Linked DNA regions of Homo sapiens: region 1 is linked to region 2. The links come from fine-mapping of genetic effects on gene expression. A gene starts in region 2. The other region holds a variant in brackets. All regions are shown on one strand. Distances are between the middles of the regions. Region 1 overlaps GRM1 (glutamate metabotropic receptor 1). Region 2 holds the start of SHPRH (SNF2 histone linker PHD RING helicase).

Evidence for each region. PIP is the estimated chance that this variant, and not a neighbour inherited with it, causes the effect.
Region 1: its variant is the best candidate, but not a certain one, in a credible set for the expression of SHPRH in whole blood (INTERVAL, PIP 0.58).

Annotation. Positions count from the first base shown.
Region 1 is chr6:146,050,477-146,055,863 of GRCh38, reverse strand. The region is part of intron 1 of GRM1 (glutamate metabotropic receptor 1); the gene reads right to left. Among named protein-coding and RNA genes, the nearest start is that of GRM1, 24 kb to the right of the region's middle. The variant A/G (reference allele first, on the strand shown) is at 3,185.
Region 2 is chr6:145,961,627-145,967,013 of GRCh38, reverse strand. SHPRH (SNF2 histone linker PHD RING helicase) reads left to right here and starts at 2,656. Exons shown (of 30, transcript NM_001042683.3): 1 at 2,656-3,283. RefSeq lists enhancers at 2,180-2,229, 1,781-2,768, 2,680-2,899, 3,010-3,139.

The DNA of each region.
Region 1 (5,387 bases), 89 kb before region 2:
AAATTCACTAAATAAAGTAAATACACATTTCTTTCCCTACTGGCAATCCAGCTTCCATTTCCTCAAGTTATTTCATTACAGTTATGTTTTCATTTTAGTTGGCAATCATTTATATTCCATTTGATTTATAAATGTAAAACCACATATTACCCAACTTTACAGCTGCCGAGGGAAATTATTTATTGCTCTACATGCTGCCTACGTGCTGTCAGAAAAGAAGCACACCTCCCCAGCCCTTCAATTCTGTTCCCACAAACACAAACACATACCACTCAGTGAAAGACTCATTGAATTTGCATTTAAAATTTCAATCCAAGAGTTGATATCTATAAAAGAAAGAATAATAAAGTTAACACGACATGTTAGGAATTGAAAGTCATGATTTTGGAATAACTTTGATTTTGGATGAAATTTCTCATTCTCAGGAAAAATTGTTTAATGGAAAATGAAAATAAGAGCACGCTTTCCTAAAAATTAAAAAAAGGTGTGGTTAGTTATTTCAAATGTATTTAAAATATTAAAATATGTAAGACTTAACTCAACATCCATGCTAGAGGTTGGGCCACAGAACTTCCTTATGTGCCAGTTGTATCCATAATATTATGCTAGAAGCAATACACACATCTAAATACCACTCATCCTATTTATTAACCTTAATTTTTCCCAAAAAGTATGGCATAATTCTGTAAGCAGATATTCAACATACATTTTCAAGTATACATTTATTCAACATGTTTTAAAAAAATAGCTCATATGTGCCAGGTGCTGTATTAATTGCCCGTAACACAGTATGAACAAGAAATGCAGATTCCTACATTTATTGGAAGCTTAGCGTGAACCCAAGGCAAATCGCCCCATTCCTATCTCCTCACTCATCCAGCACTCAGCTCCCCTCCACCCCCAATTATTACCCGCACCCATCACTTGCCCTCCACACCCACCCCTGCATCTTCCCTGCCATAGCAGATAAGAGAGACAACTGTCGCTGACACTAACAATGACACAGACTTCCCTCTCCTTAAAATCCCTAGTTTTTTCCTCTGGGGAAAAATTATACACACATATGTTGTTCTGTCAGTTGAATCTTTGTCCTATTCTTTCTATAAAACATTTCTGGTAGAGCATTAAAAAACAAATATAAAAATATATATTGCACCCAGTGTACATTGGATCTCCCAATGGCTGTTGGAGTCTAACAACCGTCTAAAATGTTTCTTTCCCTTTCTCCTCTCCATAAATGTGAGAAATGAATGTCTATGCCCCCTGACATAAACTATGTTAGGCTGAACATTCTGTGAAGAGCATATAGAGAATTGTCTATGGATAGAATATTTTACTGCTGACAGATAATTTTGGATAAAATATAAGGTACAGAAAGGGAAAGCTGGTCAGGAAAAGCAGAGCTTGCTATGGAAACAGCTTGCTACCTCCATAGAAAAATTAAATCTGTTTTATAATTATTATATTTTATATAATGAAATATATCACTGCTCAATCTGAAAATATGGGAGAGAAAATATATGATGCTTGTTTTCCATTTCTTCTTCCAATCATCCAGAGAATGTAAATAATGAAAGAGTACTTTGAGTACTGGTAGATAATTCCATGACAGTTTAAGTGAAAAAGCTGATACTTTCATGTGAGAGTAAATCAGAACAAATCAAACATCCCTGTGCACCTTGCAAGGTATAAGACACATTGCTGACAGCCCAACAAATCATGAGTATCTAAAATTCAGGGGAATATCAAGGTTCTGTAATTTATTGTCCTCTATTTAAGCAGGATTTAAATAATCTATATTAAGAAGTATATCTTATTCATTTTTTATCTCTCATAGTCAATAACTGTTGGATTTAATTAAATGTCAGAAGCAAGTCTTTAGTTTATTGAGATTTAGCTCAGACTGGTACTGTGTAGCTAAGCAAAAAGTAGAGGGTTTCTTTGAAAGTCCTACAAATGGTATTCTCCATACATTATATGGAACCTCCTTATCTCTTCAGTTAAAACTGAGGCACATTCATATACTAATAATATCACGTACATAGTGGTCCCAAATTTGGCTGTGCAGCAGAATTACCTAAGGAGGAAGGGGATTATAAAAATATGAGTCCCAGAACACCATTCCCAGCATGTTTTGCAATATCCCCAGATGTTTCTAATTGCATGCATTTGGGGATCACAGGTGGGGATGAAAGAGCCCTGGACCAAGAACTGGGTTCAGAGATCTGCTGTGCCACAAAAAAACTCACATAACGTTCAGCAGGATTCAGTCCATCAGTCCTTTATTCATCCTTCAAGCATGCATGAAAAACAAACTATTATATCTCGGTTTTTAACTTCCTCATCTGCAAAATGAGGTTCCTGGAATAGATAATCTGAAATCCCTTCAGCCTCTAAGTCGATCCTATAATCTACATTATAATCATCCCACCTACATTTGTCATATATGCCTTACATAAAGTAATTTAAATCAGTTTTAAGCTCTCTATTGAATTAAATTCTGCAAATATATATTGAAAAATATATTATGACCAAGCATAGCACAAAATCAAAGTTCTGGAGACATGTTGGGCAAAACCTTGTACAAAATATTGCTTCTTGTATTCTAAATTCTCAATAAGTATTGTGAAGTGAATGATTTAAAAGAAAGAATAAAAAAATAAAATTTGCTAAACCTATTTGAGCCTTAATTTCCTAAATGAAATAAGCTAGGTACAAAAAATTACTTTTTAAACCAGGGGTATAAAAGAAGTTTCCATCTGAAGGCTAATGATGGATAACTGAGAATGGTGCTGAGAACTATGTTACAGAATCTGGGAGAAAGGGTACCGTAGGTCAATTAGCAATGTCTAGTCACATATTTGTCTTTCCTGTTATAAACATAAAACCCCGGGGTTTTTTTATTTCAAAAATGTATACTTCAAGCTTTTGGGGCATCAGGCATTGTTCTAGGTTCTGGAAATATGACGGTGTCCTGTTAGTAGGTGAGTATAACAACAAATATGTAAAGAATTGCATAAATGAGATAATTTCCAATAGTAGGAAATGGCACAAAGTAAACACAACAAAGCAACAGGATAGAAAGTGAAAGGGGAAGGGTTATACTTTATATAGAGAAGGGATTCCTGAGGAAATGATATTTGAATTAAGATCTAAATGAAAAGAAGCAGCCAGCCACAAAAAT[A/G]GCTGAAGAAAGTGGATTTCAGCTGGAGGAAACAGCCAACACCAAGGCATTAATGAGGGTACATCCTTCATGTGCTCAAGGATGGCAAGGAGACCCATGGCTGAGTGGGATGGGATAGGTGATACCAGATGATACTAGGCAGACTCACCCTATACATTTGCAATGCTAGACACACTCTTTACCCCTTTCTCTCCCTAACTCCCCATCCTTCTCCCCATGGGAAGGGCTGTGAACACCTGAGTCTGATTTCCAGGCTCCAGCAGAGCCTCCACGGCTGGGGCTGGGCATCTATAGGTTTTAAAGCTCCCTAGATAAATGTAATGAGCAGCCAGAAGTGACAACCAGTGCCCTAAACAAAAATTAAAAAATAAAAACTTAAGTTATAAACAACAGAGAGGCTGAATTTATGGCCCATAAATGACTAAGAAAATGGAATGTAATAAAGTAAATATAATATTGAGGAAAGTTTGGTTACAGAAATTGCTCCCAATCTCTAATTCTTTCCCTCAGACAAATAAAGAACATGTTTTCCTCACAGCCTCACAACTCTGATTTAAAATTTAAAAAAATCCTACTTTGTAATGTCAATTTATTTAAACTAACATTTTCAGCCTATGTACAAGGAGTTGTAATAAGTGCTATATAAATCAGAAGAGATATAAGATATATCCTACTCTCGAGAAAGTTACAAGCAGCATTACAAATATCTGGTTTCAGCCTTATGATCTTGTTGACATGACTTCAGCCTCCACCACCCTTTGCAACTGGTATTTTCTTCCCAGTGCCTTTTCAAATCGCAACCTTGTACAGAGTAGAAGCCATTAGTTTATATAAACCAAGAAGATTATATAAGGGTGCTTGGGAAACAGTAGTGATGATGATTAAAGATGATTCTCAGGAAACTTCAGGAAATGCTATACATATGTTCATAGCTAAAATCCACTAACAATTATGAAATAGGAATAACCTTTGATGTCTTCCAACTGGCCTGTGAAGGACTGGCTCCCCGCTGCAGGCACTACTCTGTCATGACCCCCTAACCACTTATCTGAAAATCTTGAAGTCATAACTGATCATAGCTTTAAGTGCTATATTTTCCAAAGGCATTACCTTTTAACAGGAGCATATTAAACACTGCAAATTTTCCAGATGCAAAGCAGTCAAGGGATGGGAGCAGTTAGATGCCTAAGAGGCTCTCAGTCTATTCTCTATATGAATCTTCCTCTTTTCCCCTTTATCAGTAAATTATGTGCTAGCTCCAGTGTAGGTCTCTGAAAAAGACTTAGGATGAGCACTGTATCATATTTACAGATGGAGGGGAAGTCACTTCCAATAGAAGCTAACCACTGTAGGATACACAATATCAGACCACCACCTTATTAGCTTATGTGTGTATGTTTATGTATTTTATTGAGTTCTTATTATATGCTAGCCATTATCTTGTTAGCTGCATGAGAAGTAAGTACAATTATAATCTCTGGTTTGCAGATTTGAGGAGTAGGTTTAGAGAGTCTCAGTGACTCACCTAAAGTCACACGGCTCTAAGATAGGGTAAGAAAGCAGATGTGTCTGAGTCCAAGTCTCCTTATTAACCACTAATCCCCCTCCTTCATACCCAGACTTTTTATTATGTGTCTGCTTGAACTATAACTACAAATGGAGGAACCAAAATTTAAAAGGCTAGTAGCTCTTTTGGTAAGCCAAAGTCACTGGTAGACCTTCCCAGGAAGGGTTGATTGCAACGCTCTGTTATGAAACCATAGACTCTATGTATCCTCCTCACTGGATCACAGGTTCACAGGTCATCAGCTTTATTTGGTCCAATCAAATGAGCCTAATACCGGAATTCCTTCCACAAAAGCAAATGAACAAACAAACAGGAATCTCATAGGCATATGCCGTAATCACACTAGGGACTAAGTAAGAGAGGCTGGCTTCTGCATGAACTAACACTACAATGGAAAATTAATTGGCAGTGTGTAGATTCTGCTTTGGAGAATGAGCAGCTAAGAGTATTGTCAAATTTCAAAATGCAGTAAACTCCCATTACTAATGCCCTGGAAATTTCCAAAGAGAAGATATAGCTTTTCTTCCCCTCCCCCCTCTTAAAAATATCCCTTGTTTTTAGAAATATGGATATGTTTGTTTCTTTTAATTATAGAATTGTTCTAAATACAGAAGAAAAGAAGGCATGTCTTTTTAT
Region 2 (5,387 bases):
TAATTCTAGCTCTCTTGCTGTTTCCACCACATCTGCAGTTACTTCCTCCATTGAAGTCTCAATCCCTTCAAAGCTGAGACTTTGAGTTCCTGAGAGATGGAATCAACTTCTTCTAAACTACTATTAATGATATTTTGACCTCTCCCACCAATCTCAAATGTTGTTAATGACATACAGAATGGTGGATGTTTTCCAGAAGTTTTTAATTTACTTTGTCTAGATCTATCAGAAGAATTCCTATCTATGTCATCCATAGCCTTATTACTTCTTAAATAATAAGATGTCAAAGTTAAAATTACTCTTGATCCATGGGCTGCAGAATGGGTTTTGTGTTAACAGGCATGAAAACAACATTAATCTCCTTGTACATCTCCATCAGAGCTCTTGGGTGACCAGGTGCATTATAAATGAGCAGTAATATTTTGAAAGGAATCTTTTTTTTTTCTGAGCAGTAGGTCTGAACAGTGGGCTTAAAATATCCTGTACATCTATGCTGTTAAGTAGATGTGCTGTCATCCACACTTCATTGTTCCATTTATAGAGTACAGACAGAATAGATTTAGCATAACTCTTTAGGGCCCTAGGAGTTTCAGAATGATAAATGAGTATTGGCCTCAAATTCAAGTCATTAGCTGCATTAGCCCCTAACAAGAGAGTCAACCTGTCCTGTGAAGCTTAGAAGCTATGAAAGTCCTAGATGGCCTTTTCTTTCTATAGAAAGCTGTCTTATCTACATGGAAAATCTGTTGTTTTGTGTGGCCACCTGCTTCAATTATTTTAGCTAGATCTTCTGAAAAACTTGCCACAGCTTCTACATCAGCACTTGCTCCTTCACCTTGTACTTTGATGTTATGGAGATGGCTTCTTTTCTTAAATCTCATGAACCAACCTCTGCTTGCTTCACATTTTTCTGCTACAGCTTCATCACCTCTCTCAGCCTTCACAGAACTGAAAAAAGTTAGGGCCTTGCTCTGGATTAGGCTTTGGCTTAAGGGAATGCTGAGGCTGGTTTTATCTTTTATTCAGGCCACTAAAACTTTTTCCATATCAGCATGAGGCTGTTTCGTTTTCTTATCATTTGTGTTTTCATTGGAGTAGCACTTTTAATTCCCTTCTAGAACTTTTCCTTTGCATTCACAACTTAGCTAACTTTGGTACAAGAGGCCTAGCTTTTGGCTTATCTCAGCTTTTGACATGGCTTCCTCACTAAATTCCTTCGGTTTTCGATTTAAAGTGAGAGATGTGCCACCCTTCCTTTTACTTGAACACTTAATAGTCCATTGTAGGGTTATTAATTGGCCTAATTTCAATATTGTTGTGTCTCAAAGAATAGGGAGGCCTGAAGAGAGGAAGAGAGACAGGCGCCAATAGTGAAGCTTTCAGAACACACACAACATTTATTAAGTTTAGCATCTTCTATGAGCAGAGTTTGTAATGCTCCCAAAAAACTACAATAGTAACATCAAAGATAACTAATCATAGATCACCATAACAGATGAACAGCAAGTGAACACATGCTGCTTGAAAAATGATGCTGACAGACTTGCTTGAGTAAGGTTGCCAAAAAACTTCAATTTATAGGAAAACATATTATCTGCAAAGTACAATAAAGGGAAGCAAAATAAAAGGAGGCGGGGATTTGCTTATGGAAACAGCTTCGTATCTGTGATAAAGGAATATACTAAGTAAAATATGGACTACCCTGGACTGTCTAACACAACTACAACCGATATTCACTTGGACAAGAACTTAGTTCAAGTGCTTCTGTGGTCACACAACCCAAAAGGCCTCCACAGCAGAAAAGCTGCTATTAGGTACTCACTAACTAAGTACTGAGTCCCCAGTGTTTCCTGAGGGTTATTTCACAGGCTCCTGACCCTGAAGCCTCTCAGAGTTATTCCAACATTAAGGTCACTTCTATGAGGAAGAGGTGAGAGGAAAAAAGACCAATAGTGGAAGGCCAGCTTCAGCGCAACACATGTATTTAATAGTTTCTCTCATCTTTGAATATTTATTCACATTTCCCTTTAAAGTCTGTTTTTGAGGGGGAGAAGCTTTATTCGTACCTACTTAGTGGCTGCTTTATAGCAGTAAAATAGATGCTTTTGCAGAATTCTTTTCTGCTTTTCTTTTGTGAGACGGAGTCTCATTCTATCACCCAGTGGGGAGATGTCGGCTTACTCAATCTCTGCCTCGCAGGTTCAAGCATTCTCCTGCTTCAGCCTCCCGAGCAGCTGGGACTACAGGCGGGTACTACAGGCGCGCACCACAACGCCCGGCTAATTTTTGTATTTTTAGTAGAGACGGGGTTTCGCTATCTTGGCCAGGCTGTTCTCCAACTCCTGACCTCAGGAAATCCGCCCGCCTCGGCCTCCCAAAGTGGTGGGATTACAGGCGTGAGCCACCGCTCCTGGCCCCTGCCTTTTTATTAGAGATACAAATCACACACGCCCTTCGCTTCAAGGGGAGCCCCGCCCCCTACTTCGGGCATTCGGCCATCCTGTGTTCTCTAATGGCGTGGGGCAGAGCTATCGCGAGACTCCACTGTATCCTCAGCAAGTTTTTAACAGTGTGAACTTGCGCAGAAGAGACTCATGAAGCCAGCGCAGGAGAAAGGGGGCGGGGTGCTCTGACGAGCGCGTTCGCCTTGACCCCACGCTACAGCGCGCGCCCGGCAGCTAGGCGCTGTGGTTTCTGGGTCTCCCGGGGGACCCCTACACGTTCCGGCAAAAAGCGCTCGTGCCCACCTCAAGCCCATGTTCGGTGGGTGGCGAATGCGTGCCCGTGATCTGCTGGGTCTGTAGAGGAGCGCAGGCCTGGTGCAAACAGACTCAAGAGGCTCGGAGAACCAGCTTGGGTAGGCGCTTGGGTGATGGAAGGTCAGGGGTCAGAGGTCGGGAGGGAGGGAGGGAGGTGGTCTTTGGCCTCCGGGACCAGGGAGGGAGGACGCTGGTTGTCCTGGAGCCCGGGAAGCTCAAGGGCTGAGAGGGAGCCGCTGCGCGAGTCTTCCCCACCTCTTCCCGATCCCGGACTAGCGAACTTCGGACCACCACGTCCCTCCGGGGATAAAGTGGGGTCGTGGGAAAGGAGGCTGTGCTTCTCCTCATGCACTGGGGCCTGCGGTGTTTGTCTCGAGCGTCCAACACACTAGGATCCGGGAGTCCGTCGTCACGCTCCTTGGCCTCGCGGTCGCTTGTTTGCTCGGCCTGCTGGGAGCGATCCGGCGCTGACAGCCCCGCTCAGACTCCGGGAGCCGCTTGTGGGTCTTTCGGAAGATAACTGAGTGGGTACCGTGCGCCGCAGATCTACCCCCGGAGGCTGGAACTGGGTCGCCGCCTCCCTTCTTTGTGCGCGGCATTGTATTAGTAAAAGGGGAGGCAGAGGTTTCTCAGTCCCACTCAAAGTTCTCCGTTACCTTTGGAGCCAGATTAATTACATTCGAATTCAGAACCACTCTTTGACATTGTACAGTTTGACTGGTAGTTGCTATGTTTATGAACGAAGATAGGGTGTTATTTGATGATTAATAGTCACTGTATAATGATCAGTTAAATAATGACCAGGAAGCTTGTGCCCTTTTTCCAAGTAGTTTGACATTAGCACGAGGTAGAAATCCGAGATGTTTGATGCCTTCCAACTTGTACTTAAGGAACTTAAGGAACTTGGGGCTTTTTCTGAACAAAATAAGATAAAGTTATTACTGTTACTTTAAATTATTCCAGTGGGCATTAGTAGGAATGATGAAACTCTTGAATAGAAACGATCCATGATATCTCTACTGTCACAAAAAAGACTATTTAGTTTATGATTAGTAAACATGCTGGAGACAGAGCAGTCCTGAGCAGTATTGTAATGATTATGTCTGTGCTCGATAACCTGCACTTTCTAGAGCTTTAAAGGACCAGTTAACCAGTAAGCTGGCAATTGAGAATAAAATAGTTTACTTTTGAGAGATGCTCTTGTATATCCTCTTTGTCCACCCGAAAGGAGCTGGACTTACAGAATTATTAAAACAAAACTTTTATTATTAAGAGTTTAGGCCAGTAAGATTTAGGGGAAACAATTTGCTGGTGAAAAAGCTTCTTATGAGGGCATTTTTAAAGTTTATGTAACTAGCATATTTTAGCATTCAGTAGAAGAAAATACTCTCACCTTGCTGGAATTATTTCTACAGAAAAGGAAAAGATTATGTTAACCCTGGGTCATTAAGAGCTTCCTAGTACTTAGTAATGAGTGGGCTTCATTTCCATAACACAACATTTTGGACAGGAATATGGCAAGTATGTAATCCTTTTTGCCCTTAATAGCCTAAACCCAGATCTACCATGGATTTGTTGTAATTCAAGATTTGTGTGTATCTTTTAAAGAGGAAATAATATTTTGGAGGGAAAAAATGTGAATTTAAGTTGTGTTATTCATTTGTTGGATTGTCTTAGTAATGTAACATTTTATGTTTATTTTTCTAGCATTCCATCCTTGTTTTCTGTTAAAGATACAGTTCAGGCAGTTTTCCCTGCCTCGTTCTAGTATTTCATTTTTCTCAGAAATACTAGTTTCATATTACCTATAGTCTTCTAGAATGTGGATAAGAGAGACTTCTCCAAAAAGAAATAAGAGTAAAGTATCGTTAGGTCCTCAAAAGGAGGGAATACATCCACGGAATTAGAGATCTTTGTTTCACCCTTTTTGTATGTCTTTACTTCCTAGCACTGACCTGGCATTGGGAGTACAACACTGAATAGGATACTACTCCTGCCCATCTTTCAAAGTGAACACTCTAGCAGTTGGGATCGAGGAGAGAGAGGCCCTTAACTCAGCTTCTCTAGTCATGGAAGCCTTTCCAGGGAAGATTGGGATGGAGACAGGCATAAAAGCAATTCAAGCAAAAGGCTTTTATATTTAAATACAAGACAGTAAAAGTGCGGTCCATATAGAAAACTTCACATAATTACGTTTTACCCAAACACTGCTAATTAAGGAGGAGGAAGAAGTAGTTGTGACTGATAAGGTATGAATAAAACCAGAAGAATATGGGATGTGGTTAGATACAGAATTTCACCAGTACTTGACTTACTAGTTGCCAAATTGCATTTTAGTCATAAGTATATTTGACCAAATACTATTTTCTTTGGTTCAAGAAGTTAACCCTGAATAGAGATTTCCTTAAGTAAAGACTCAGTCAAAACCAGGAGCTTTTTGTTTGGTTGGTTGATTTTTGATCATGAATGTTTACTCAGTTAAGAACTGGACAAAGGGAGAGCATTGCTAGAAATTCTGGTGTTGACTTTTCTGCAGTTTATCATTATCACTGATAAGTACCTTGAGGCACTAATATTGGAAGAATCAGGCTGAAAGAATACATCTGAAGGAATGTGCAAATTATAATG